Linked DNA regions of Homo sapiens: all the other regions are linked to region 4. The links come from fine-mapping of genetic effects on gene expression. A gene starts in region 4. Each other region holds a variant in brackets. All regions are shown on one strand. Distances are between the middles of the regions.

Region 1 (6,153 bases), 33 kb after region 4:
GAGTTGTTCCTGGTGTTCAATTGTTGTAGATACTGAACATCAATATTGGATGCAAAGGTTTTGGCTCCTTACCTGATGGGTAAATTTCTAAGTCTGAATACAGATCCTTCTAAACTGATTCCTTTTATTCCTCTGTAGGGATCAATGTGACCACAGCAGTATCAGAGGTCAGTGTTCCCCCAAAAGGGACTTCTGCCGCATGGGCCATTCTTCCTCTCTGTAAGTAGATTTCCTACAAGTCTGGGTTCAAGAACTTCTTAGATACCAGATGAAGATTTTTTGTTCATCTGGAGCTACCCCTTTCATGGGCCTTTATGCTGTCTAGCATTTATGACACTGAATTACGTTCGCTTTCTCCCCCACATAATACACTAAATTAAGGCCCATATCTTTCTCTTCAGTTGTACCTTTGGCACAGTAACTGGCAATGATAAGTGTTCAACGGTTAATGCTTTCTACTTCCGCACTGTTAACCTGGCTTATCCCCTTTTATAATAAGTCTCTTTAACTAGTGTACTGTTCTGTTCCCCCTTTGAAATGTGTGTAATGCTTCATACAGAGGAGATGCACAAATGCTTAAATGCTAAGAGTTACAGGACTTGTTGAGGATAAATTAAAAGCAGTTAAGAATTTTCAAACCTATGGAAAAGGACCTCTAAACGAGACACGCAAATTCTAAGGACTTTGCTATAAAAACCTTTGTCCTAAATGAAGAGACCCAAGCTTAGCTAACACGCCAGGACCACCTGAATAGCTCTCCAGAACCTTCTGCAATTTTAATTTGGTGAGCCTAAGGTGGGACCGAGGACCCTGCCCTTGCCTGGATGGATGTGGCTAGTCCAGCTCCAGTGCACAGAGCTACCTCTGGGCTGAACTTGTTTCAAGCTCCTGGCCCATGTGTATTCCAACTTCTAGTTATCCTAGCTCCATAAAACATGGCATTTTTACTAATGTCAATTATTATGGATTCCTGAACGTTATTACCTTTCTTGTATGTTCCAATACTAGACTTAGCTCACTTAGCTACCCTCTGATTTTTTTCAGTGCTCTTAGTGATGGCAGCAGTAGGTGGCTACTTGATGTGGCGGAATTGGCAACACAAGAACATGAAAAGCATGAACTTTGACAATCCTGTGTACTTGAAAACCACTGAAGAGGACCTCTCCATAGACATTGGTAGACACAGTGCTTCTGTTGGACACACGTACCCAGCAGTAAGTCAGCTTTGTGTCTTTATACACCATGGCTTGAAGTGAGACTTTTCAGAAAGGAGACCTGGGTGAGAGAGAGAGAGCCATTAGGATGATGGAGTTACCAAACACTTCATCTGCTACCTGGCTATTAGACAGACAGTATAGCCTGTTAGAACATAAGTCACTCAGTTGATCAGCATCTAACCCTCACCAACTGACAAGTGGGTCAACTTAAAGTCACCACTATATTAAGATATTTTTGGTTATAGAAATGACATGTAAATACTAGCATGAACCAAGTAGCTCATTACTGAACTATTAAATCCATTGCCTACTGGATATTTGAAAGTAAATTAGCATATCATATATAGGGGAGTTGGCTTAAAGTCAGTGTATTGAGTAAGATTCACTTAGCCAAAATTATTATATGCTTTGCTTTAAAAAGGTATCCCACCGCCCTTAGTATAGCTAGCTTTTCTTCCAGCAATAGTCACTCACTTGTTCTTCAGATGAAACCCAAGTGGAGTATTTGGCCTTCACGTAGGAAACAGGCTGAACAAAACAAGTATTGATCACTCCCCTCTCAAACTCCGGTGAAACATGGAACAGTGGTCAATTCTTGACACACACATGGCTTTTCACATTTTTCCCCAAGACTTATGATCATTAAGTAGAAAAGACAGAATTAGTCACACTATCTTATCTCACTACCAAGCAGGTATAGTTGAATTCAAGTTAAATGCATGAATGATACAACTCAGTATTCTTTTGTATCTGACTGACTTTTCTTCTAAGCACTCTGAGTGTTTGAATGACCAACTCAAAAGCAAGGTCCATTTTAAAGACTAGAGTTGCCATCAGTGAGTGATCACCAAGCTCATTCTATACTTCTTCTTTTCCACAGATATCAGTTGTAAGCACAGATGATGATCTAGCTTGACTTCTGTGACAAATGTTGACCTTTGAGGTCTAAACAAATAATACCCCCGTCGGAATGGTAACCGAGCCAGCAGCTGAAGTCTCTTTTTCTTCCTCTCGGCTGGAAGAACATCAAGATACCTTTGCGTGGATCAAGCTTGTGTACTTGACCGTTTTTATATTACTTTTGTAAATATTCTTGTCCACATTCTACTTCAGCTTTGGATGTGGTTACCGAGTATCTGTAACCCTTGAATTTCTAGACAGTATTGCCACCTCTGGCCAAATATGCACTTTCCCTAGAAAGCCATATTCCAGCAGTGAAACTTGTGCTATAGTGTATACCACCTGTACATACATTGTATAGGCCATCTGTAAATATCCCAGAGAACAATCACTATTCTTAAGCACTTTGAAAATATTTCTATGTAAATTATTGTAAACTTTTTCAATGGTTGGGACAATGGCAATAGGACAAAACGGGTTACTAAGATGAAATTGCCAAAAAAATTTATAAACTAATTTTGTACGTATGAATGATATCTTTGACCTCAATGGAGGTTTGCAAAGACTGAGTGTTCAAACTACTGTACATTTTTTTTCAAGTGCTAAAAAATTAAACCAAGCAGCTTAACCATGGTTTGTGCCTGTTCCTCTAGGATGAACTCCTATCCTGAGTAGTACCAAGTGTTCTAACTAAATGTGTGAGCTGTAGTTCTTGATGTTGTATAACTAAGCCTGTAATTGGGCTGGTTTCTCTTACACCCTAG[C/T]ACAGTTAAAAAATGAAGTACTGTTTAACATTTGCTCCCGAAATATTTCTTACTGTGTAAAAGAAGCTAGCTTAGTCTGTACCTAGAATTCCTCTTGGTTAGAGGAGTGAGTTTCTTTTTTTTCCATTAACTTGTTTCCTGATCGAGAAACACGTGCTAAGATTTCTATGAATTCTGCTTCTTTATAGTTAAGTCTCTGTTTTCCATGTTCTGTCATTTATATAGGTCAAGGACAAGTGCCTTCTAAGGCATGGATAAGGGCTTTCTTCTTATGAAAGTCTAGACTGTCTTACTGTGAAGATGGCCAGGGAGGATAGCAAGCAATGGCATTCTTGAACAGTCTAAGGCAGGTTTCTCAGTGTGGTCCTGAGAACAGAAGCATCTGCATCACCTGGGAATGTATTAGAAATGCAAGTTCCCAGCCCCATCCCAGACCTACTGAATCAGAAACTCTGGGGGCGAGGGCTGAAACCTGCTTTCATAAGCCCTTCAGGCGATACTGATGTAAACTAAAGCTTAAAAACCACCGTTTTACTGTGACTTCATGAAGAATATAATTGCAATATCACCTAAATTTTTATCCTGGCTGGGATGGGGCAGATTCTTACTATGGACAATTTCTGGAACTTACAGTATGAAGAGCAGATGAGGAGTTTGAGACAAAGAAAAAATTGTACAGGGAGTTTAGTGAATTTTCCATCAGGTTGGCCATTACTTTCTTTCTCTAAAGTCTCAGGATGTCTGGAAGCAAGGAAAGACAAAAGACTTGAAGCACCGGGTGCATGCTGTGTGTCACAAGTGAGGTGGAGAGTTGGCTGTGGAAGGTACAGCAATTCCTCTGGAATTAAATGACCGACCAACACAGTACCAAGAGGATGAAGAGAAGATGTTTTGCGTTGCTACGTGAATCAGTGGATGACTCATATTTCACTTGCATATGAAATATAAGGCAGTTAACATCTTGTTTGTGGCTTAAGCAAGGACATTAATCCTACTAGATGAAGGGGAAGTTGGTTCTGTTGTCTTAAGGGATGCCCCCTTGTGATTTTGGTCAACTGAATGAAAAAGAAAAGATAGCCTTGGACTTTTTTTTCATGGGAGGTTTGGAGGTCAAGCATGTAGAAGGAAAAGGCTGTAGTCATGAATATAGAACTGTCTGCTCTCCACCTTTTCCTCACTCTACATTTAGTCATCACACTGAACAGGATGTGGCCTGCTGACAGTGAGTAGCTGAAGTGCCTGTTTGGTAAGTAGGTTAGCATTCATCATGAACTCTGAAAGCCATTTCAGAGTTTGGCTGCTGCTCTGACCCTGCTGTGGTACAAAAAACATGGATTTTTTTTTTTTTAACTGGAGTAATACCAAATTCCCTTTAGAAGCTTGAAGTTTGATACTATTGCTTTCCCCATTATAAGGATTATACAGTATTAATTAATTATAAGGCCCAAAGTTTGTTTTGGCAAATAAAGTATTATTCTCTATCATCATCTTTTGAATTCCTGTCCCTAGTATGTTCTTTCATGTTCTGGGTAAAATTTCCAACCCTCAAAGAGTCTAAAACGTCTCATTTTTTTTTACCACGTCCTCCCCAGTAAGAAGCCAAGGTACAACTCATTGTACCTACGAGGTACAAACTCATTTGTAGAAACAAAGTAACTAGATATTCCTATTGAAATAAGAATAGATATATTGGTGGGCCAGGCATGGTGGCTCACGCCTATAATCCCAGCACTTTGGAAGGCCAAGGCAGGAGGATCACTTGAGGCCAGGAGTTCGAGACCAGCCTGAGCAACATGGTGAGACCCTGTCTCTACAAAAAAAAAATTTATAAAAATAAAAGAAAAAAATAGTTATATGACTAAACTACTAGTCAATACAGCTTGCAATAATAGTGCATGAATGATAACAGGCCTCGGCTTTATCACCCAAAAAATAACTTGAATTCTATGTGAAATGTGTTAGGATAAGTTTGCTCTGTCTCTAGAGTTCAATGTAGAAGATAATTAAGAGGTAAAATATGAAGCTTATCATACACTAAAGGAGAATATTTGGAGTTAGATGAGCCTGTCACACAAAGTGAAAGTGGACCCTCCAGAAATTTTAGGAATTGCCACAAAGATTGATGATAGATGAATAAACAGATTTGTGGCCTCTGGTAAAGAAATCCAGCCAAGTTCCTCTGTCCAAATTTTTAAGTGCCCTTTGCAAGCTAATCTATTTGGCAAAAAAATAGTCCCAGTTGTTCAACTAGCTCCCTTAAAACATTCTAGTAGGTGTTTTAAAGCCTAGGTATCGCTGCCTCTTTAGTTCTTGATGAATACAAGGCAAAAAAAAAAAAAAAAAAAAAAAAAAAATTGAGGCTTTCACTTTGGCATTTGCTTCTGTTCCTTGTATCTGTGGAAGTCAAGTAGCCCTTCTCAAAAATGAGAAGCCAAGCTTTAAATAGCAAACTACAGGGTATTAAAAGACTAACTCTTCAGTTAAGAACACTGTAGAAATGGTAGACCAACTTAAAGTCTACCTTTTAACAATCTTTACCCCAAACCTAAAGATTCTAGGGGTCACTTATCTCTATTACGTAATCTAACTGGAATAATTTCCTAGAATTCTTACTAGTGAAATCTTACCCAAGTAAAACAATTTATTATTTTGAATCCAAATGAAAGCTATACTGTTTGCTTTCAATGGTGGCAAAAACTTGCAAAAAGCAGATATACTTTTGCTAATTTAAGTTGAAGTACTATGAATACAACCTGCTAATCTTGATCCCCAAATCTGAGCCCTTCAGTTTCATAATTGTTTTATCCTGAACGTAGTTGTGACATAGACATTTCTCAAAAGGGTCTGATACATCAAACTCCTAACAAGTAGGAGCAGCAACTAGCTAAAGAGTAGAAAGAAGCTTCCCTTATTGTGGGTGATGAGGCGGTGCCTAAAAACCACATATATATAATCCCCTGGGTATTACATATTCTGCAAGCCCTGTTAGTGGGGAGATGGTAGTGGCAATAGCAGCGATAGTTGCGTCAGTGCTAACTGCTGCTGCTGCCCGTTCTGTTGGCGGCTGCTGGCCAAGTGTGCACACTTAGCCCTGGTTGAGGTGCATTGTCTGCTGTCGTCTGTTAAGCATCTAACCGGAGTGGGAGGGCACATCAAGCGATTTCACTCTCTTAAAGAAAAGGTTTTTAGGTATTTTTGGTATTATATAGTCTCTAAGGCCAGAAGGGGCTTATAATGACTTCTCTTCTAGAATTGTAATACTAAAAAACTAC
Region 2 (6,153 bases), 130 kb before region 4:
TGGCCTAATCTAGGATAATTTGAACACTAAAATAGATAATTTCAATAATGGATCATAACTTGACAAATTAAATATGAAAGTATGAATTCATACCAATATAAATGAACAAATTTTTGAAGAAAAGTGGGACATTTATACAAACTCAAAGTAACTTTCCACAAAACAAAATGATTTCAAAGGGGAAAAATTAACTTTATGGGACAGAAACGTGACAGATAACATCTTAAGCAAGCAAATTGAATATCACCAGTAATGGGATAAATCTAAATCATAAACCATTTGGTAAGATACAATGAGAAGAACACTGTATCCATCCTGTGATATTTGGGCCAAAATGCAGAACCTGAATCTAATAATGAGGAAACATTAGACAAACAGAAATTGAAGATCCATTTATACAACAACGGGCATGTAATTCTTAAGTGTCAAGGCCGATAAAGTTAAGAAAAGGGTGAACAATTGCTTCATATTGAAGGAGACATATGACAACTAAATGCAATATACAATTCTTATTTTTGAATAACAGATTTATTGAAATAAAACTTAAGTCGCAGAAAAGTCACCCTTTCGAAGTATACAATTTAAAATTTATTGACATATTTGCAGAGATATGCAGGAATCCACACCATCTAATTTTAGAATATTCTCATCCCTCCAAAAAGAATTCCCACACCCAATGGCCATCACTCTCTAGTTCCTCTCCCAACACCCCCTAATCTATAGGCAACACTAATCTACTTCTAGTCTCTATGAAATCTTAAAACATACTGTCAAATTGTTCAGAAAAAAACAGGTTTTTTTGTACTGTACTCACAACTTTCCTCTAAGTTTAAAATGGTTGAGAGATAGAAAGAGACAGAGAAACATCACATTCACATAAACAGATGCTGAAAGATTTTTTTAAATAAAATTCAGCATCTACTGTTGATTTTTTAAATTGTGAAAATGTCAGAATAAATGGACATTTCTTTAACAAATATGTATTTACTTTGATAACTAAACCAAAAAGCCAGTATCATGCTTAATAATAAAACACTAAGCTATTCTTATTAAACTCAGGAACAAATCAAGATGCCCATTATAACCACTATTATTCAGCATTGTTCTGGAATTGCTAACTAATGCAACAAGACAAGAAAAAAGGATGGGCTGGGCGCAGGGGCTCACGCCTGTAATCCCAGAACTTTGGGAGGCCGAGGCGGGTGAATCACGAGGTCAGGAGATCGAGAGCATCCTGGCTAACACAGTGAAATCCTGTCTCTACTAAAAATACAAAAAAAAATTAGCAGGGCGTGGTGGCGGGTGCCCGTAGCCCCAGCTACTCGGGAGGCTGAGGCAGGAGAACGGCACGAACCTGGGAGGCAGAGCTTTCAGCGAGCTGAGATCGTACCACTGCACTCCAGCCTGGGCAACAGAGTAAGACTCCACCTCAAAAAAAAAAAAAAAAAAAAAGATGGGATTCAAATATTAGATTTAAAAACTATTTACATGAATATGAATGTTTAGCAAGCTCACCGTTAGGTAATACATATTAGATTGGTGCAAAAGTAATTCCGTTTGTGTTTTTCTCATTGTGGCAGAAACCAAATTACTTTTGTGCTTTTGCCATTATGGCAGAAAGAGCAAGTACTTTTGTACTAATTTATTACACAAAAATATATAACTTTCCTAAAATCAAGAATAATCTAGTAGTGGAATCTCAAAATCAAAGCAATTAAATTCATGGAGATGGAGAATAGAAGGATGGTTAATCAGAGACTGGGAAGGGTAGTGCGGGAGCTGGGGCAAGGTGGGCATCGTTAATGGGTACCAGAAAAAGTAGTTAGAAAGAATGAATAAAACCTAGTATTTGATAGCACAACAGGGGGACTGTAGTCAATAATAATTTAACTGTACATTTTAAAATAACTTAAAGAGTATAATTGGGTTGTTTGTAACACAAAGGATAAATGCTTGAGGGGATGGATACTCAAGCCTCCGTGATGTGATTTTGACACATTGCATGCCTGTACCAAAATATCTCATGTACCTCAAAAATATATACATCTACTATGTACTCACAAAAATTAAAAACAAAACAATGTTTAAAAAATAATAATCTGATAGGAGACACAATCCAGAACACATTCCAGTCATAATGAAATAAAAAACTAAAAAGAAAATCATGCATTGGGAAAATTATTCGGGATTAATAGCCTTTGCACTTAAATAACTATTACAAATCATTAAGAAAAATAAAAATGTTCTGATAGAAAAGTTTATTCCCTCAAAGAAGAAATTTAAATGGCAAAAGACAAATTTTAAAATGTTCAATCTTACTAGTTATTAAAATGCGAAATAAAACAATGGAACTCCATTTGTTTTTGTTCATCAAAGTGTCAAAGGCGTTTTTTAATGAATGTGGGTGCAGATTGGTCCTGTGAAATTACTGTTAGTGATAATGCATTCTATTATTAAAACTTTCCTAAAGGACAATATGACTGATTATAATAATAAGCTCAAAAACCTTAATTATCCTGTCTTTTAACACAGTAATTTTACTTATAGGAACCTACCATTTTCAAAAATGTATATAAAATTTAGGTACCTGGTGTTTACAAACGCACTGATTAATAACAAAAAACAATCAGAGACAACATGAATGTCCAATAATAGGAAACTGGTTGAATAAATTGCAAAAATTTCAATGTGATTAAATATCATCTAGCTAATAAAAATGATGTTGTTCGAAACATGTTCACAAAAGATTGTTCAAGGCCCTTATAAAATGTAATCAATAATCAATGCAATCAATCATCCCTATGCCTAGAAAAAAATTGATTTTTATATTTCAACACATTAAGAATGGTAATTTTGCTTGCTCATAATTTCTAAATTTCTAAATATTTCATAATAAAAAAAATCACAGCTTCTTTAAAAAAAAAATCATCTCCACAATGCTAGATGAGTCTATGGCAACCAGTGAGAAAAAAACTGGGCTTTTTTCTTATCAACCAATTTCATTCTGAATCTGAGGTTTAATGTAGCTGCCAAACAACCAAGATGCTTGAGGATTCTCTGGCAGAAGTAGGGAATCAATAGCTAGATAAGTAACAAGCCCATTTTATTCTTTCATGTTTGGAGAAAGCTTGGAACATTGTGCTCAATTAGAAGAGGGGCACTTAAGG[C/G]ACATGATTCCTGGGAAATGCCAGGGAGTTCTGTGTTTAACAGCTAAGTTGATGAGTAGATTTAATCCACTGAAAAGAAGGGTTAAGAGTAATATAAAAAATTTTCTTCAAATTTCCAAATGACTGTCAAGAGAAAGAGGTGTTAGACTTATTCTTAGCAGTTCTAAAAATAGAACAAGAACCAATGTACAGAAATTGCCCAGATAGCTTCTAGGGACAAGACAAACTGTTCCAACAATAAGACTCACTCCACAAAGGCAGAGGAGGTGAAACACAACAGAGGTCTTCCAGCAGGGGCTTCTAATGACTCATTAGGGCTGTTGCAATATAGATTCCAGCCTTGGTAAGAGACTGTAGTAGACACCAGGTCTCTAAGACCTGGCAACTCAAAGTGCAGTCCATGACTGGCAGCACTGACATCACCTGGGAACTTGATAGAAATGCAGATTGTTGCCCCATCCTTACATCTAATTCATCAGAATCTACATTTCTAAAGAACATGACTTATATGCACATTAAAGAGTGAAAAGCAGATGTGGAAGAGGTCTTCTAACTGTAGCCTCTCCATCCACTTGGGTTCTTGGGTTCTCCTGTTGCTACCCCTCTTTCACCTAATCTTACATGACCTACCAAATCCCCACTGAATACATAATTCATTAAAGGCAGAAGACCTGTGGGTGGTTTGGAATAGAATAATGAGCTTCCAAACTAATGTAATCTGATGAATGACTACATTGCTTATTAGTGAGAATTTGGGAGGAGAGGGATTCCACTGAAATCCATTGACAGGTAAATGGATGTGAATGCAGCCACGTACAGTCTCCTTGGGCCCAATGATTCAGACCGTGTGAAGGGCTCCCACCTTCCTATGATTCTCATTCATCATTCTTACTCACCTCCTGGCAGCAACTGTAGGCTGCCCATCTACTCTTTAGGATTATCTACAGAGGAAAAATGACATTTTGCCTGCCAACCAGCAAGTGTGCATACATCAGTCCTATCCTCTAAGAAAGTCTATCCTCGTAGATGTAAACCTCCAACTGTCGGCAGCTGATAGTCCAAAACGTCAAAGAAATAAATAGTGGAAAAATAACCAGACGTCATGTATAAGTCAAGGACCAGAGCATTTAATGGTAGCTAGATGTTAAAGAATTGCAAGACCAGGCTTCACTTCTCTTGCAGCTTCATCTTCTGCCAGTCCCTAATTCATAATGCTTTATGAAGAACCAAATGCTTCCAGTGCCTAGAAATACCATGTCTTTCATGCCTTTCCTGTTACCTTCATCTGGAGGGCCCTTTAGACCTGGCTCTGCCTGGACAACTTCTGCTCATCCTTTAACACTCAGCACAGGCTTCACCTGCTCTCCCGGGGAGGAGGACAGGCTGCATGACCTGCTGCTTCTCTGAGTTCCCCCTGTACCCTGTTTTAACCTCCACTGTGTCACATAAGACCAGTTCTGTTCAATAGAAATAGAACAGGAGCCACTGGGCTCAGTAATCCCGGCACTTTGGGAGGCCGAGGTGGGCAGAACATTTGAGGTCAGGAGTTTGAGACCAGCCTGAACAACATGGTGAAACCCCATCTCTACCATAAATACAAAAACATTATGCAGGCATGATGATGTGTGCCTGTAGTCCCAACTACTCAGGAGGCTAAGGCAGGAGAATCACTTGAACCTGGGAGGCAGAGGTTGGAGTGAGCCAAGATCGCGCCACAGCACTCTAGCCTGAGCAAAAGAGTAAAACTCCGTCTCAAAATAAAAAAGGAAGGATATATAACAGGAGCCACATAAATTTAAAATGTCCAGTAGCCACATTTTTAAAAAAAATCTAAAGAAACAGGTGAAATTAATTTTAATTGTGCACATATATATATATATATATATATATATATTTTTTTTTTTTTTTTTTTTTTTTTTTTTTTTTTTGAGACGGAGTCTCGCTCTGTCGCCGAGGCTGGAGTGTAGTGGCGCGATCTCGGCTCACTGCAAGCTCCACCTCCTGGGTTCATGCCATTCTTCCGTCTCAGTTTAATTGTATATTTTATATAACTCGATATCTAACTGATCTAATTATCATTTTGACGGGTAATTGACACCATGTTAAAACAATTAATTAGATATTTTACATTATTTTATCAATAATAACTTGTTAAAATCAAGTGTGTGTTTTACACAAAGAGCACATCTCAATTCAAACTAATCACATTCTCAGTGCTCAGTAGACACATGTGGCTGCTGATGACTATGTTGGACAGTACAGCCTTATACTGAAATAATCAGTTTCTGGGTTTGCCTTCCCTTCTAGAAAGTATGCTGCTTAAGGGCTAGTCAATGTCACATGTGTGATATCATCAGTGTATCTTCAGTGCCTTACATATATGGAGCATTCATGAAATGCTTGCTGAACTTAACTGACCTGAAGGTACTTTGAGAGAAGGTAGAATTTTATTTAGCACCTGCTCAAACGAAGAGCAGCTTATGCATACTTAGGATAATTATGATGACAGAAATGACAGATATTTTTTCTTGAATGATGTTCTATGCTTTTTAAATATATTATCTCATTTAGCCCTCACAATGACCCTACATACCATATACCATTATTATATCCATTTATGAAAGACAAAACATTCCCCAAATTATACAGCTACTAAGTGAAAGAGCCAGAACTTTTTGAAATAGAGAAAAACAAAGTAAATAATATTAATTACATGTACACTCACCCACCACAATAAACCAAAAGTTGAAAACAAGCTACTCCACATAAATTAAAAGCCCTCTCCAATATGGAAGACTTCTCTTAAATTTCATTCACCAACTCCTGCAATATCTTTTCCAGAGCCTGGTGATCTGCTGAGTTTTCCCTTATGCAGGACCTACTTCTTTACAGATTTCTGAGCCAGACATTTCTGGCTTGGTATTTAATACCTTTCATACTCTCCTTCTATATTTGCATTCTGCCTGTCTGGTCAAAATGGCAGAGC
Region 3 (6,153 bases), 24 kb after region 4:
ACCACTGCACCTAGTCCAATGAGTTTTAGTGTTCAATCCTAGAATTGGGTTTTCTGTATTGGTAAGCCCTGGTGCTGCCAAGTGTTTCCCTTATAAATCTAGACTTTGCTTCCCAAGAGAGTCGTGGTCTCTATTCTAATTGCCACCAAATTGTGACCTTGAAACATTTGGCAGGAATTTAAGTCAAAGTACCAATTGGCTAGTAGGACTAGCTTATCATTGTCAGCATACCTGATTGTTAAATGGTGATTATAGCCCTGGCAGTGACTTTTTCAAAATGGAAAGTGTTTAAGACTTGTTATTCCTGATCCTTATTTAAAGGACCAAAAAGAGGAACCATATATGGTGGTATGTGGTTCACCTCTTTTGGTGACAAAGTCTTAATGCTTGTTGTGAGTATTACGTTGCATGATATTCTCAACTAGTGATAAGATCTGACAAGCAGTATGTTGATTCAAGGACAACTCAATCTCTGCCTTCCAAATTGAAATCCCTTGTTACAGTTTGTTATTTATGATGGCCACTTTTAGAATCAATTGTGGTTCTCATCTCAAATTAATTTCCAGTCTTCAACTATTTTCTTGGTTCTTTATTTCTGTTCTTCTTATTTATTGTGTGCCTTCATTTTTTGTACAATGAGACTGTACAAAAGTTCTTGATTTAACTCCATTGTAGCCTTTAAGTTGGGCTAGTAAGTTAGGATTAATGAATAAAGATCAATGTATTAGATTTTGGGACAAGAATCTTGAACGGACCAATCTTGATGCATTTTCAGTGGGGCATCCTCTCTCTTAATAGGCAATATAACATGTAGTCCCGACGAGTTCACCTGCTCCAGTGGCCGCTGCATCTCCAGGAACTTTGTATGCAATGGCCAGGATGACTGCAGCGATGGCAGTGATGAGCTGGACTGTGCCCCGCCAACCTGTGGCGCCCATGAGTTCCAGTGCAGCACCTCCTCCTGCATCCCCATCAGCTGGGTATGCGACGATGATGCAGACTGCTCCGACCAATCTGATGAGTCCCTGGAGCAGTGTGGCCGTCAGCCAGTCATACACACCAAGTGTCCAGCCAGCGAAATCCAGTGCGGCTCTGGCGAGTGCATCCATAAGAAGTGGCGATGTGATGGGGACCCTGACTGCAAGGATGGCAGTGATGAGGTCAACTGTCGTAAGTAGCTTTCTAGCATGGCATGTTCAGTTCTCTTCCCTGTATCAACTGGGACAATTTGCTGGCTTCATTCCATGGTGTTTCCTCCCTTTGTAGCCTCTCGAACTTGCCGACCTGACCAATTTGAATGTGAGGATGGCAGCTGCATCCATGGCAGCAGGCAGTGTAATGGTATCCGAGACTGTGTCGATGGTTCCGATGAAGTCAACTGCAAAAATGGTAAGGGTTTCTTCTTGTTGGTTAAGCAATGGATTGCTCTGACCAGACCCACTCATGGAATCTCTCTTCTTTGTTTCTCTTTGTAGTCAATCAGTGCTTGGGCCCTGGAAAATTCAAGTGCAGAAGTGGAGAATGCATAGATATCAGCAAAGTATGTAACCAGGAGCAGGACTGCAGGGACTGGAGTGATGAGCCCCTGAAAGAGTGTCGTAAGTGTACTTGTTGTTCAAGTACAGATCCTGGAAGTTTGACACAATCCAGTATAGCTAACACTGTGTGGACCCCCCGTGATGGCTAGTTAAACTTTTGAATGTACTGAAGTTCAATTGTAGACTTCAGAGTGAAACTTTATGACTTAAAAGCCCAGGTAGGACAAACTAGTTTATAGTTTTTGTTTTTGTTGTTTTTTTTTTTTTTTTTTTTTTGAGATGGAGTTCCACTCTTGTTGCCCAGGCTGGAGTGCAATGATGCAATCTCGGCTCACTGCAACCTCTGCCTCCCGGGTTCAAGCAGTTCTTCTGCCTCAGCCTCCTGAGTAGCTGGGACTATAGGCGCCCACCACCACGCCCGGCTAATTTTTTTTTTTTTTTTTGTATTTTTAGTAGAGACAGGGTTTCACCATGTTGGCCAGGCTGGTCTCGAACTCCTGACCTCGTGATCCACCCGCCTCGGCCTTCCAAAGTGCTGGGATTACAGGCATGAGCCACCGCGCCCGGCCCAAACTAGTTTATAGTTTAACCTCCTTAAAGATAACTGATCATCAATAGAGAAACTTGACTAAATGCTTGACCAGCTGGTAACTTGCCGAGGAGTTAGATAATCCACCCTGAAATATATACCTATAAAATAAATGATTAGGTCTTAGACAAATCGTGGGTTTGACCAGGCCAACTAGATAAGTTATCACAAATAGCCTGGGTTTTAAATGTGAAAGATATTAATTGAAAATAAGTTGTCAAGTGACTACTACATTTTTATTCCAGATATAAACGAATGCTTGGTAAATAATGGTGGATGTTCTCATATCTGCAAAGACCTAGTTATAGGCTACGAGTGTGACTGTGCAGCTGGGTTTGAACTGATAGATAGGAAAACCTGTGGAGGTGAGTCTAAGAAGAAAACCTGGACCCTGCAGGTGATGGGAAAGGATAGTATGTACCTAGTAAGGTATAGGAGCAGCAAGACTAATTCTGATTTCCCTCCCAGATATTGATGAATGCCAAAATCCAGGAATCTGCAGTCAAATTTGTATCAACTTAAAAGGCGGTTACAAGTGTGAATGTAGTCGTGGCTATCAAATGGATCTTGCTACTGGCGTGTGCAAGGCAGTAGGTAAATGAACTTGGACTGGTATGGCTGTTGTACCTTTATGAGTAAGTGCCTCTAAAAGGTACAGCCAGTGACTACAATAGTCAAACTAAACATGAAATTGTACTTGAGAACAATGCTG[C/G]TAACCTCATAATACAGCAGTATAGGTCAAATAGCAGATCTCTCCCCTAGATATGTACCTTGATCATTCCTTTTGCATATGATACCATGAATACCTACCAGGTTTGCATGCTCTGTTTCCAAAACTTGAGTCCAACTCAAACAAGTGACTTATTCATCACTCACCCTGTTCTTGAAGGCTGTAACCCCACGACTGCCTTCCTAAACTGTAGGAAGCACTTGCAGGTCCCAGGGGCAGGAACTCCAGAACAGATACTACTGAGGTATTCCACAATACCTTTATTTTCTAAGTGCTCCTCTGCTGGGAGGAGGTGGTTTAGAAAGACCTTGCCTTCTTAAAGCAAAACTAAGTAACCCAGACTTCCATCTTGCAGGCAAAGAGCCAAGTCTGATCTTCACTAATCGAAGAGACATCAGGAAGATTGGCTTAGAGAGGAAAGAATATATCCAACTAGTTGAACAGCTAAGAAACACTGTGGCTCTCGATGCTGACATTGCTGCCCAGAAACTATTCTGGGCCGATCTAAGCCAAAAGGCTATCTTCAGGTAACTTTCAGTTCCTTTTGTGGTGTCTTGACATAAGTCATTGTCACTTGGGAAGTGATCTGTGGGATAGTTTGGAGGAGTTTCTTTTGTGTCTAGCCCCATCTAGCATCGAATTACCTGGGGACATTAAATCTAATGCTAATTCTTTATTAAACTGTTATCACTTCCTAATTAGAAACTAACAATTGTCTATGAAGTAAAAGATGACATCTTTCATATTTTTTATATTTTCTCCCTTTTCTCTACAGTTAATTGAGAACTGTTCATTGTTGCTACAAATAGAAATGGTAGTACAGCCTTTTCTTAATGGGAACTATAGAAACTCAGATGATGGATACTGAAACAAATAGCTTCACTTAGAAATTTGTTGTTCTTGTATATAGAATACATACCAGCAACTAGATAATCTACAGCATTATTAATTTAGGATCAGTAAGCAGCATGGTTAAATAATTTGAGTGGTGAGCTGTGGTGTTAACTGGATTTCTTTCTGAACAAAGTCATTGACCATTTTGTAAGCAAAAAGTCCATTCTCCAAGCTCTAATTGTGTCAAACTCTTAAATTTCTTGTGACCTATTCTGTTTCAGTGCCTCAATTGATGACAAGGTTGGTAGACATGTTAAAATGATCGACAATGTCTATAATCCTGCAGCCATTGCTGTTGATTGGGTGTACAAGACCATCTACTGGACTGATGCGGCTTCTAAGACTATTTCAGTAGCTACCCTAGATGGAACCAAGAGGAAGTTCCTGTTTAACTCTGACTTGCGAGAGCCTGCCTCCATAGCTGTGGACCCACTGTCTGGGTTTGTAGTCTGTTTTCCATCACAGACTTTGGAATGGTATCTGTGTAGGTCAGGAGCTTTCTCATACCTGAATTAGTACTCAAATCTCAAGGTTTATGAGCCTTCTGCAACAAAGAATTAGAATTCTAATTTAAGATATCAGTTTTGCCCCAGGTGAGTGACCCTGGGATGTCCTTATCTATATGACAGGTCCTCCTGTCTGACTCTCGTATGACTGATTGCTGGCTGACATTAATGAATTAACATTCCTGATTTGATGTGTGTACCAAAAGCTGTATCTGAACCCTTTTGTCCACCCAGTTTCTACGCAAGTGATTTTTTAATTTTTGACTGAAAGCTTTGCTGGGCTAGCTCTGGATGATCAAACCTAAACGACAGCCTGAATTGTGAGGATTTGGGTAACCACATTGCATCTAAGTGTGCAAGTTGTCTGAAAGTCCAGCAGAAATAAACAGACCTTTCTAGAAACATTTCACTAAGGGGGTTCTGTAAATTGCCACTAAGTAACATAGAAGAGCAGCTCAGGAAGTTGACTAAGGCTGTAGTTGTCATCACAACTGGCCCCCGTGCAGCCTCATTAGAACTCAGTCAGCCAGCCAACCCCTGCTATGAAATTTGAAGGATGTTCGTCTTGCACTCCTCTGTAAGAACTGACCTTTTAAAAAGGAAACATAACCTTGTGACTTTGGGCCGAAATTTAAATGTCAGACAAACATAGATTATTATAGTTAATAATGAGCTTGTAGATTCTTAATATTCAATTTTATTTACCTAGAACATAATTTAGACCCTTAAGTGTTACTATTTGTCACTAGAGAATGCCTTGAGTTTTCTGCTCAAATTTTAAATTTTTGTTTCCAGCTACTACAACTTTATTCCTTCTAAACCACTGAGGCTTATTTCTCATTTAATTTTTCACAGCTTTGTTTACTGGTCAGACTGGGGTGAACCAGCTAAAATAGAAAAAGCAGGAATGAATGGATTCGATAGACGTCCACTGGTGACAGCGGATATCCAGTGGCCTAACGGAATTACACTTGGTATGTATGTTCTTCCTTCTCGACCACCCACTCAACTATCTTCATAGTGTTTCCATTTATCTCCATGGTGAATTCTGGACTAGCAGATGACTCTACTGCTTCCGCCTAAATTCTAGCAGGAATTTTCAATGGGAGTAACTGAACAACACAAGTAAAATGGTGGATTAACAAATTACACATTCCATAATTACTGGCCTGTTGTCCAGCTGGGCCTAATATGTGACACAAATTCAGTGAACGTTGGGTCTTGGGTGCACTCATACTAAATATTCTGGGCATGAGTGCCTTAGCATTTCCTGAATTGCAGGCTTTTAACAGTTTTCTTCTGGCTTTTTGGAGGAGAACAACAAAATGGTAGCCTCTTTTAATATTTTCTGTAATGTGAGTAATATTTCTTAAGTCATTTGCTTTGAGAATCTCAGGTACCCTGTTAGTCCCCAAAAATGAACGTGGATACAGGCTCTGCATGCTGCTTCGCAAGGTTTATGGTGACCCCGTTAAGAAACCCTGCTGGGGAAAGAACCGTGAAAGTAGATTATTAATTCATTAGATATTTTTAATGGAAGCCAGAGTAGTAGTGGCTTGTCATGTAATGACAATTCTTTTCCTACCTAGACCTTATAAAAAGTCGCCTCTATTGGCTTGATTCTAAGTTGCACATGTTATCCAGCGTGGACTTGAATGGCCAAGATCGTAGGATAGTACTAAAGTCTCTGGAGTTCCTAGCTCATCCTCTTGCACTAACAATATTTGAGGTAAGATGTGTCTCACATCAAAGTGTGTACCTTTGAGCTACTATATCACTTTGAGAAGAAATAACAGACATAGCGGGAGGAGGGAAGAGCAGCTGAACATGGCTTGAGAAACTGCTTTCACTTAAAACCTGGTACAAATCAGACACTAAGTCCCAGAAGCACTCCAC
Region 4 (6,153 bases):
TTAGGGGTTGGCAAGTTTGTTTGATTTTTTTTTTTTTCTAAAGGACTAGATGGTAAATATTTTAGGCTTTGGGAGCAACATACAGTCTCTGTTGCACACTATTCCTCTTCTTTGTAAAACTCTTTTTAAATGTAAAGATCACTCTTATTTGTAGGCCATACAAAAGCAGGTGACTGGCTAGACTTGGCCCATGAGCCCTAGTTTGCTAACCTCTACTCTATGTGACCAGTGCTAAAGACACATAGACAGCAGGGAACTACTCACATGGGTAGTTCTAAATGAATCGAATCACTCGGAGACCTGGGCTAATGCAGCAGCCACCTCTTAAACATTTCTTGTCACCACGCAGACACAAAGAGAGGGTTTCACATAAGCAATTAAGTGCTCCGGTCTGAAAGTGGCACCCTGTAACTTAGGCTCACAAATAATTAGCCAAAGTTAGTCTTTCGACCCCATCCAACCATAAGGGGGCCAGGACGTCCAATCCTACCATGTGTCCAGAAGTAGGGAGAATTCAGATCACCGGGTAAAAATTATGAAAAAAGCTCAGAGACAAACGCTCTGTGAAGCCTTTTCTGATACCTTCATCCTGCAGCCAGAATAGCTGCTTCTTCCTTGCAATCTTCTAGCACTTTAAGCATCTCTTAATCAGAGTGCTATACATAGGGTACTACAGTTGCCCACTTGCCTGCCTCCCCTACCAGATGCTGAGCTTCCTAGATAAGCACTTCTGTATGCCCACTACTTTGCACAGTGCCCGTTAGCCAGGGATGCTCACTATGTGTTGCTTCAACAAATAAATGAATGTGGTGGATTGTAGGAGTGAATGGGATTGCCTCTGCATTTACCTGACGGCGTCGGGAATCCAGCAGTGTCAACTTCTCTGAACCCAGTTAGTTCAACCATTTCAGTCTCCACTTATGATCAATTAGCTCTGTTAGTTCAACCACTTCAATATCCACTTATCATCAATTTATCTTTTTAGTTATTAGCTACTTTCTATCATAATCCAATGAATTTCTCCATACAACCTTTTTCTTCTAATAAACAACACCTTGCAGAGAGCTGGTCCTTGAGGCCACGGAGCACTTTGATATAATGTGGCTTGGCTTTCTTTTCAGTTTACAGGCCAAAAGGCAGACACAGAGAGGCACAGTGATTTTTCCCAAGTTACACAGTCAATCAGAGATGGAGCCAAAAGTTATGCTTTCTTTTGAGTCAACAAAAAAGCTACAGGATTGAATACAGAGCTGCAGCTAAGTTCACTGAAAGTTTATTTATATCCCTTGGAGAATTAGAAAGTACTCACACACGTTTTTCAAAGTTAAGTCTTATTATACCATATCAATGTATAGCTTGTAGTATACCTGTATCTCTGAGTAAAGTATTAAAAACAAGTCATATGACTGTTTATTAATGCTGCCTCTTTTTGTATTGATTCCACCCATCCCTTCTACTCCTTTCCTCTTCTGTAAAGCAGTAGCTCATCAGATGGCATTTCAGAACCCTGAGAATATGAAAGACATCATGCACTAAGGTTTTCCTATCACATCTCAATGCCATTAGGTGAATAACACCGGCATGCATCTTCACTACTAAATGTCATACAAACAAATTTCAGTTGTTTCACATGCAACCTGTGTGGCTGCTGCAGTTTGTATCAACTATGTAACCACAGGGTGGGCAAAATAGCATTCAAAATGAGCTATAGTGCAAGATACCATCCATACGTAGAGTTAAGCCCTTTCATGCTTAGCAGTCACAATCAGGATATCTTTGGCCCACAGAAACCTATCCTGACTGGAATTTTCCTCTCCTGTGTGTCTCCTGGATATAGTAAGTTCCTAATAAACATCTCCTCTGATTGCTAGCCTTGACAAATTTCCAGGAGAACCAGGGCAAGGAGAAGACAGTGAGGCAGTGCCCGCTGCTCTTCAGATCACCAACAGAATAGAGTCAGAATATGATATTATTGAAACCTTCCAAGTTTGAATTAAGATAAAAACAACTTTTTCAAAATACCAAAAACCTTTTATTTAAGAAAGTGAAATCGCTCGATGTGCCCTCCCACTCTGGTTAGATGCTCAACAGACCACAGCAGACAATGCACCTCAACCAGGGCTAAGTGTGCAAGAAAACTGAAGTACACAAAAAGCAAATTATAGACTCAGGTACTGTCAGGCACAAAAGAAGAACCAACCCTTTCTAGGAGTCTTGTCTTTGCTTCCTTTATTCTTTCCTCGATTCTTGTAATTGAATGTTACAAAGTATATCAAGAGGAATAAACGTATGGGGCCCCTCTCTTCCAAACAAGAAAAGGTTAAGCTTTTAATTACAGGCCCTCAAACTATCATTTTGTGCAATTAGCAATTAACTATAATCGTTGATGAGCAAATGCAAAGCTGCGCTAGCAATTTCCCTTCTCCTCATCCCAGGCTGGGTTATTTCAGTCTTGTTCTATTACAGAGGACCAGCCACAACCGCGCGCACTCTCTTTCAAACATACACACTCTCTCACTTAAAGACACATTTAGTTTTCGGCAAAACGGCATCTCAGCGTGCGATTGAGACCGGCATCCCAAACCCCACTTTTGAGCAGCCCAAACGTTTGGAGCCCCTCCGCTTCATCACTTTCTGAGTGGATAGAGGAGGCCCGAAGAAGATGCTACCTACCAGCCTCTCTCAGGGGCGCAGGAGAGGGTGGTAGAGAGATGCTTGTTGCCCCTGGAAACTGCAAGTACCCCCCAGGTGCACGCCCCGTCAGTGGGGAGGCGGTGGCAACAGCAACGATAGTTGCATCAGCGCTAACTGCTGCTGCTGCTGCGTGTTCTGCCGGAGGCTGCCGGGAGGGTACAGTAATGACTGTAGGGAGCGCACAGCCGCTGCGGCGGCAGGTTCCCTGGATCAGGAAATTAGGACAGGCACCCGGGATTGGAGGCGAGGGCGGCGCGCGAGCCAACCAGCGGTCGCCCCGGGCCCCCGTGAGCCCCAGGCGAACGCGCGGAGCAGCCGGGCCCCTAGAGCGGTCCGGGTGGCGGCGGCGGCAGCCACGACCACGACCGCGGTCACTCACGCACGCTCACACTCGCACGCTCCCCGCGCGGGCACCCGGCTGCCCGGCGCGTGCAAGAGGAGCGCGTCGAGGGAAAGGAGGGCCGAAGCCGCCGCGCTCCCGCCCGCCCGCCGCGCCTCCCGTTGACCACGCCCCCTCCGGCCCCCTCCCCGCTGCTCACCCCGCTCTCCGGCCGCCGCCGGTGCGGGTGCTCCGCTACCGGCTCCTCTCCGTTCTGTGCTCTCTTCTGCTCTCGGCTCCCCACCCCCTCTCCCTTCCCTCCTCTCCCCTTGCCTCCCCTCCTCTGCAGCGCCTGCATTATTTTCTGCCCGCAGGCTCGGCTTGCACTGCTGCTGCAGCCCGGGGAGGTGGCTGGGTGGGTGGGGAGGAGACTGTGCAAGTTGTAGGGGAGGGGGTGCCCTCTTCTTCCCCGCTCCCTTCCCCCGCCAACTCCTTCCCCTCCTTCTCCCCCTTTCCCCTCCCCGCCCCCACCTTCTTCCTCCTTTCGGAAGGACTGGTAACTTGTCGTGCGGAGCGAACGGCGGCGGCGGCGGCGGCGGCGGCACCATCCAGGCGGGCACCATGGGCACGTCCGCGCTCTGGGCGCTCTGGCTGCTGCTCGCGCTGTGCTGGGCGCCCCGGGAGAGCGGCGCCACCGGAACCGGTGAGTGAGGACGCGCCCCTCCGCCGGCGGGCGGGACCCAGCCGGGGCACCGGGAGACCCCGAGGCGTAGGTCTCCGTTTGCCCACCCGCCTCCTAGGAGGCGCCTCTCGGTTCTCCTCGCCTTCCCTCCCTCCCCTCCGTGGTGGCGCCTCTGAGCTGTCAGCGCCGAGGCTAAAGGGAGCCGGGCTTGGGGAACAGCGGGGTTCGGGGTGCCCCGACGCCTCGCCTGAACTAGTCTTCTGCCCCTCACTCCGCCTCCCCCAGAGCCGCTGCTTCGCCTCGTTTCTCGCCCTCTTGACGGGCGCCGAGGTGCGTGGGCTTCTGAGCATTGAACAATGGTTCTGCCTCCTCTGCCAGGCGCAGTGTTGGGAAGGAGGCAGAGGGCCAAGACGTGTGCGGCAGCCTCGGGCGCACCCTCGAACCCCGGGGAGTGCGGGAGCGGACGGGGGGAGAAGGTGAGCGCCTCCGGGGACGCGGAGCGCCAGGGGCCGGCCGGGCTTCAGAGTCTTCCGGCGGCCGCGAGCTGGCGCACGTTCGGTGGGCGGCGGCCGGGAGGCTCCGCGGAGCCGAGGGCACCCGGACTGCGACTCCCCCGGCGCGGGGCCGCCTCTCCGGCGTGCGGGGTAGGGGAGCGGCGGGGCTTTACGCAGGACTCTGCTCTGGGCGCTTCTCCTCTCCCTTTTCCCCGCCTCGGGCGGCGTTTGGAAACCGCTCGGGTCTCCCGTGTAGCTGAACGCGGAGGGGGAGTGGAGGGGAGACTTAATCAGGTTAGTTTGCTGACCCTCCTTCCCGGTGACGTTTCCTCGAGAGGAATTGAGTCCTAGGCTAGTGACTGTAATTAGCCTTCATTCTACACAATAGCTCAAAGGAGCAGCGCGAGAGCGAGCGTGTGGCCCTGTCTTGTTGGGAAGGGCGGCGGTGACTACTGTCGGGTCCCCAGACTCTGCCGCGGGGGCCTGGGGGCCCCGCCTGGTCGTCAGCCACGTTCCCACTTGGGGCCTCGTAACTTTCCTGGACAGGCGACAGGAAGCCTTTCTGAGAGGACTCAGTCGGAATCCTAGCGCGTCCCCGAAGTGATCTTCAGATGTGACGCCGAGGGGCTTGCTTGCCAGCTGCAGGGAATTGGGACTGAAAGCCGCCCAGGCCCTTAACACCCGTTCCAGAGTCCCTGGCTCCCGTCGCCGGGTGGCTTCAGGGGCCCTGCCGGCCTGCAGTCACGTGCTCCTGAAGTGAGAGCGAACTTTAAAGCATGTGGTCAAGGAGCCTGTCGGGCAGCGCCTGGGGTTTTTACGTCTCCGAATGCCCCTGCCCTTTGGTTGCCACTGTCCGGAGCGTGTGAACTGGGACTGGCCTTTCCGCCCTCTGCGATTGGTTAGCGGTGCGATCACGTTTAGGTTGGTCACATGGTTCCGCGGACTCTTAAGTGGGCAGCATGGGCAGTGTTATTTTCAATGGAAAGTAGGAGACTCCACAGGCTCTTACGGGCTGTTCTCTCAAATGCCTTCCCCTGCCTGGACTCTTTGAAGAGGACGAATGTGTAGTGAACATGGAATCTGATGTGTAACAAGCCTGAGAGCCTAGAAAAGCTCTGCTTACAAGAGTTTCCAAACGCTAGCATTAATCATTAATAGATGAGTAATACTAACTTATTAAACGATTTCTCAGTATAGTGCCATGACTTGCATTATGCCTTTTGTAACATTTCAAAACGCTAAGGTATACCAGAAGGAGGGACAATTATCCAGGAAGGTGAGAGAAAAGTTTCGTTTTTGCTGCATGTCCCTTCCACTAGAGGTTAACTTTACCTTATAGAATGCTAGGAATGCACCTAAACTACTGACATGAGTTAGTCAAAGCCAGATGTTCACCTTGTATTGGGCAGGTGAGGATCCTTTTCACTTTGTCACATGTGAAATATTTGACATGCCATGAACAATGGAAAAACAAATTCTTCAAAGGAGAGGAAGCAGATTCTTCCAGAACTGGAGGAAATTTGGGCTGAGGCAGTTATTGACCCTAAACCAATCCCAACCGGCATCTGTCTTAAGTTCAAAGTCTCAGGGCATGTGGGCTGACTTTCTACCCTGGAGCTTCTACACATACCCCTTCTGTCCACTGGCACATGGTGCTGTTCCACAATACTCCTGGACAAGACAGGTGAACACTGAGACTCTGGCAAGGAACTTAAGGCTAACAAGAAGTTGGTATACCTGATTGCACAATTCCTGGGGGTTCTGGGACATTTTCCTTCAGCCTAAGTAGTCAAGATTAAGATCTGTGGTATGATATATTCTTTAAGGCCAGAGTCTAAAAGAACCAAGGTTTTTTGAGAGCTATTCATATATGGCTAGCAACTAGCCTAAGAATAGAAAGAAAATTCCCTCATTGTGAGAAGTGGGTTGGTGGTACTGGTGGTAGTAATAGACCTGGAGGTAGG
Region 5 (5,519 bases), 130 kb before region 4:
TACCCCATCTTTTGGTGGGGTTTTTTTTTTTAATGCTTTTCCTATATTGGGAAGGCAAAAATAAACCCAGGAGGAAGCAAATATTTTCATTAAAATGATAATAAAATGTCATCCCTATGAATATAAAGGTTTAACCGAGTACCCTGCTGAGCAAATGAGCTTTATCATAAGCATGTGGAACAGTGTGCTGGGCTGAAATGGATTTCAGAAAAATTTATATTAGAGCCTTATTCACAGAATTAAACAAACACAATGAAAACAAAGTAGTTTTTTAAAGCAGCTTCCTGCCATGAAGGCAATACGACGGCACAGAAATGGCTGCCCTCAAAGGGGCAACTCCAGCCCGAGGGCGCACCTAACTCCTTGCCTTCAAGGATGCCAAAAGCATCCCATCCAAGCCAGGTTCTACGTGGCAGGAAGAGAACATTGACACTCAGATAAACAAACACTGTTTGCCTAGCCCCTACTCACGAAACTTTATACCATAAGCCATCTTTAATTCTGGCTGCAATTTTAAATGGTCCAGAGACTTAAAAATTACTTCCATTTGTTTAGATCTGGAAAGAGCCTTGGAAGACATCTAAACCCACCATTTAAGAATACTTTTAAGCTACACAACCCTTTTGCCAATTCAATCTAATGGATACAGAATGGATCAATATTAAAATGGAGCTCCTTGGGTAGGGACTGTGGTAAAAGACCCAGAACTCCATCTACTCATTCTCTCCCGTTCCCTGTGTCTACCTCTACCCCACAACTTACCCACACTGTGGCAGACCCCCATAACTCTCCCCAGGGCTGCAGAGAAAGGACCCTACAAAATACGGAAGGGTCTACTACCTTTTGTGTGTGTGGTTTCTTGTGACAGATAAAAAATTGAAACCCAGAACGTTTAACACAGGACTTCCATTTCCAGCAAACTAAATAACCTGGAAAGCCTCCTTCTAGAAATACATGGAATGCTAGCTAAATACAAATATCCATTTAAATTCATAAAATGAACTCACGTAGACAAACTTATCAGTTTGAAAATGGGAACAACCTATGATCCAGCAGGTCCATGTCTATGTATGTATCCCAGAACTGTTCTTCAACTTGTCAGTGAAGATGCATCACTGGGTCATAAAACCCTTTCCTAAATTAAAATGGTGTATGAAATAGTCCAGGTTAAACTGAATTAGAGGTTAAGTGTGGTGGCTCACACCTGTAATCCCAGCCTTTTGGAAGGCTGAGGCGTGTGGATTGCTTGAGCCCAGGAGTTTGAGACCAGCATGGGCAATGTGGTGAAATCCCATAAATTAAAAAAAAAAAAAAAAAAAAAAAAAAAAAAAATTAGCTGTGCGTGGTGGCACACACTGGTAGTCCCAGCTACTCAGGAGGCTGTGGTGGGAGGATCACTTGAAGCTTGGAGATCGAGGCTTCAGTGAGCCATGATTGCACCACTGCACACCAGCCTGGGTGACACAGCAAGACACTATCTCAAAAATAAATAAATAAGTAGGCCAGGAGCAGTGGCTCACACCTGTAATCCCAACACTTTGGGAAGCCAAGGTGGGCGGATCACTTATGGTCAGGAGTTCAAGACCAACCTGGCCAACATGGTGAAACCCTGTCTCTACTAAAAATACAAAAATCAGCCGGGCATGGTGGCATGTGTCTGTAATCCCAGCTACTCAGGAGGCTGAGGTAGGAGAATGGTTTGAACCTGAGAGGCAGAGGTTGCAGTCAGCTGAGATCGCACCACAGCATTCTAGCCTGGGCGACAGAGCAAGACTCTGTCTCAAAATAAAATAAAATAAAATAAAATAAAATAAAATAAAATAAAATAAATAGAATTAGAATTAAGTAGAAAATAAAGATAAATATTATTCTGAGAAACTTTTGTTCCATATATGCATACATGTACATAAATGTAGCACATGTATGTGCTGGGTTTCCATGTAGCTGTGTGGACAAAACATTTTGAAAAATGCTATTGTAGAGAAGCTTTTGTATGTTAGGAGAAGGAAATGTACAAGAACACTCACTGAAGCATTGTTTATAATTGTGTAAAATTAAAAGCAATCTAAGTGTTCATCAACAGAAGAACAGATAAATATATAGTGGTCTGTTCATGAAACAAAGCAGTTCAAATGAATGAACTAGAGCTAAATCGTTGAGATCTTATGCTAAATTAGATAACAAACAAATGGTAGAATATGTGTGGTGTGCTTCCATTTATTTTAATTTTAAAAAAATGCAAAATGACAGTACATATTGTGGAAAGGTGCATGTGCATGCAGAAAAGGTCTGAAAGCATGTACCTGCAAGATAGTGTTTATCTCTGGATGGAAGAAAGGGAAATGGGATTAAGAAGTCTGCAAAGAACTTCAACTATGTCTGAATCAAACCCATCAAAATGTTAGGATTGCCTCAGACTGGGTGTTGGGACACAGAGTTTTGTTATTTCATTCTATTTTTTTGTTGATTAACTTCCTATGTCACCTGTGTCCATGAACTACGTGAGTTCATTTTATGCATTTGCACATTTAATGTCTTTTAAAATCACTCACCTAGGGCCAAAAAGCTGATTCGCAGAGTATTCTAGACTAAACCGAGGGTGGGATCCTAAGTGATTCGCAGTCTAGTCTTCTTTCCACATGGCTGCCAGTTCATGATCTGTTTGCAAATGAAAGGATTTGCATCATTTGGTCCTAATCTTAGTAATTTATTTTTACCTGAGAGATGATGCTCCCCACAGTCCACCAAGGCCACATCTGCTCTGGCAAGGAAGTGCACAAAGCACATTTGCTTTGTGAAGGCTGAGCTGTTACTTCACAGCTTGTCACTTGGCTCTGTTTCCCAACTTCACTTGTGCA[T/G]TGCAACAAAATGCTAAGCCACTAAAAGGTCAGTAGAGAGATGATCTAAACATGCAAAAAATATCAGCAGAGACAGAGAGAAACACAAAAGGGAGGGAAGGGAGAAAAAACAGCTTTGAATGGGAAAATACACAAACATAAAAAGCAATCAAATTAAAATCAGAATATTACTGAGAAACCACAAAATAAGCATCAGGTGTATTTTAAATGATGGGAGTAACTTGAAAGAGTAGCATTTTTATAGCCTTGGATCACAGATACACAAACTAACAGAAGGAAGTTCGTTAACGTTTGTTTTCGTCTATCTGAAGACAAAAACAAAAAGACAAATGATACCTTGGCAACAACTGGAGAATCATAACAGAGAGATTTATGGTGCTTTGGAAAAGTTCAGGGCAATGTTTTTTATCATTGGCTCCTTTACACTCTTCAAGTTATATAAAAGGCTCTTCTGTTCCTTCTTTCAGACTAAATAAATACATAATCATAACTTCCAGCTCAGCTTTAGCTTTTCAGGTGGGTGAGTTAAAGCCTTCTGCTTTGTTGAGGGGGGTGGGGGCAGAGGGGTGATACTGGCAGAAAATGAAGATAACCCTTGTTGTATAAGGTCCGAGCAATCATTCCCCGGAGTTAAGTAAACTGGGCCAGGTGCGGTGGCTCACACCTGTAATCCCAGCACTTTGGGAGGTCAAGTCGGGCGGATCACCTGAAGTCGGGAATTTGAGACCAGCCTGACCAGCATGGAGAAACCCCATCTCTACTAAAAAATACAAAATTAGCCGGGCATGGTGGTGCATACCTGTAATCCCAGCTACTTGGGAGGCTGAGGCAGGAGAATTGCTTGAACCCGGGAGGCAGAGGTAGCCGTGAGCTGAAATCACGCCACTGCACTCCAGCCTGGGCAACAACAGTGAAACTCCGTCTGAAAAAAAAAAAAGAAGTAAACTGTATGTGATTCTGTCTTTTGGATACCTGTCACCCTGGCATGCCCACCGAGTCCATGAACTATGAACATATTCCTTTTGTACTCCTGGTGAAAACTCAGCTCTGTGACAGAATTCCTTCGGTTGTCTCAAGAGCAAATGCAGCAGCAGCTAGTATTTATTGAGCACTTTACTCTCCTAAGTTTTTTACCTCGTTTAGTCTTTACCTTCTCAGGAAGGTACTATAACTAGCTCCCTTTTATAGATGGAAACACTGAGATGCAGGAAATTTAAATAATATCGCTCAGGTCATCTAAAGCGACAGAACCAGGAATTGGAGTAGCCAGCAGATTCTAACAGCTTGAGCTTTTCAGTGCCACACTATCCTGGGAGGTGGTATTTAAGATAAGGAAAGGCAGCTGCTGAGATGACAGCACCAAATTATGTTAGCAGCCATGAGGCCCTTGCTCCAGCTACAGTGGTTCTAAGAGGGAAGTATTTACATGCCAATGAAGGTGAGTCACTAAAACTCAGAATCCTTTCTTTAGAATTTCTAGCAACCCACAGTATCTGCATCCAGAATAGGGTAGAGACTTTTAGAGCTCCTATATATCTTGCCCTACCCAAGTTATGGCTAATTTCCACTATACCCTCAATCCCCAGAGAATCAAAGTGGAGATGGACTTGGAAATGATATTGAATAAAAGGCAGAAGATTGAAGCCTGAGCTCAGGATTGCCACTTACTAACTGAATGGACTTAACCTTTCCGGGCCTTGTTTTCCTTGTGTGTAAAATGAGAAAAAATAATGCCCACTACATAGGATGGTGAGAATCAAACCAGACAGAGGCATGGAGAACTTTGATGGCACATATTGTTGACATGCAAGGATTTTTTTTCTTCGTCCTATAAGTCAGAGGGCACATTACAACCAAATTCTATAAACACCTATGACAGGGCCATGTGAATCCCAAAGAGCCTTCCTTTGCAGTATTATTATTAACCTTGGTCAGGTCATGTTCCTTTTTTTTTTTTCATCTGTAAGAGGAGGGATATTAATCACTAAGGTTGCCTCCAACTTTGGTATTTTGTGGTTTTGTGTTCGGGGTGTAGGAAAACCAAACCCAGGATTTCTAAATGGCAGGTTGGGTACTTCTAGGCAACCTTACTCTTCTAAGTGGAACAATCACGTTCCTCACATCCCATCACTCACACAAGAAATCTAACATCTATTATAATTATAGTGGTTCCAATGGCCAGCAAGTTCAAGTGTTAGAGAAAAGAAAACTGGATTGTCTACCAGAGGTGAGTGGATATCCCATTTCACAGGCAACCTGTTAGATGTTGGGGTGGTAGCATTCTGACACTTTTGCTCTGGGTTAAGCCAGACATACAAGGAATGCAGGACATTGTGACCTTTGAGGGATCTTCTAGCCCTGTGATCTCATGTGACTGCTTCACTGATAAGTATCACTTGAAACTGATGTCAGGTATGACCAGCCCAGGGCCCTTGCAGGCTTCCTGCCTCTCTGCAGGGTCTCTACACAGGGGACTCTCAAGCACTAGACAATGTCAACAGGGGCAGTCATAACTTGAGGGGGCAACTGGAGCGTGGTCCTGTAGCATTTGTGTGCTAGCTGAATGCTCTCCCAGTCCCTCCAGAGCAGGGCTGACCCCATTCCAAGGGAAGCTAGTCTCCTGGAGAGTGTAGGAGCTGCAGCTGAGAATGATGGATCCAT

The links.
Region 1: its variant is fine-mapped to the expression of VLDLR in whole blood (INTERVAL, PIP 0.99).
Region 2: its variant is fine-mapped to the expression of VLDLR in esophagus muscle (GTEx, PIP 0.90).
Region 3: its variant is fine-mapped to the expression of VLDLR in whole blood (INTERVAL, PIP 0.97).
Region 5: its variant is fine-mapped to the expression of VLDLR in lung (GTEx, PIP above 0.99).

What each region holds. Positions count from the first base shown.
Region 1 is chr9:2,651,736-2,657,888 of GRCh38, forward strand. VLDLR (very low density lipoprotein receptor) reads left to right here. Exons shown (of 19, transcript NM_003383.5): 17 at 139-219; 18 at 1,045-1,214; 19 at 2,098-6,153. The coding sequence ends at 2,133. It overlaps LOC105375957 (a long non-coding RNA gene), which reads right to left. Exons shown (of 3, transcript XR_929436.3): 3 at 1-1,275. Among named protein-coding and RNA genes, the nearest start is that of VLDLR-AS1, 32 kb to the left of the region's middle. The variant C/T (reference allele first, on the strand shown) is at 2,882.
Region 2 is chr9:2,483,735-2,489,887 of GRCh38, forward strand. All of the region lies in intron 2 of LOC101930053 (a long non-coding RNA gene), which reads right to left. Among named protein-coding and RNA genes, the nearest start is that of VLDLR, 130 kb to the right of the region's middle. The variant C/G (reference allele first, on the strand shown) is at 3,168.
Region 3 is chr9:2,642,362-2,648,514 of GRCh38, forward strand. VLDLR (very low density lipoprotein receptor) reads left to right here. Exons shown (of 19, transcript NM_003383.5): 5 at 799-1,170; 6 at 1,267-1,389; 7 at 1,476-1,598; 8 at 2,373-2,492; 9 at 2,596-2,721; 10 at 3,213-3,384; 11 at 3,973-4,191; 12 at 5,113-5,231; 13 at 5,847-5,986. Among named protein-coding and RNA genes, the nearest start is that of VLDLR-AS1, 23 kb to the left of the region's middle. RefSeq lists silencers at 3,353-3,402, 3,413-3,472. The variant C/G (reference allele first, on the strand shown) is at 2,840.
Region 4 is chr9:2,618,556-2,624,708 of GRCh38, forward strand. It overlaps VLDLR (very low density lipoprotein receptor), which reads left to right and starts at 3,232. Exons shown (of 19, transcript NM_003383.5): 1 at 3,232-3,716. The coding sequence starts at 3,635. VLDLR-AS1 (VLDLR antisense RNA 1) reads right to left here and starts at 3,818. Exons shown (of 4, transcript NR_015375.2): 1 at 3,545-3,818. RefSeq lists an enhancer at 2,774-3,068 and silencers at 2,947-3,026, 3,637-3,906, 4,177-4,266, 4,277-4,366.
Region 5 is chr9:2,490,523-2,496,041 of GRCh38, forward strand. LOC101930053 (a long non-coding RNA gene) reads right to left here and starts at 3,699. Exons shown (of 6, transcript XR_001746603.2): 1 at 3,658-3,699; 2 at 2,553-2,903. The variant T/G (reference allele first, on the strand shown) is at 2,859.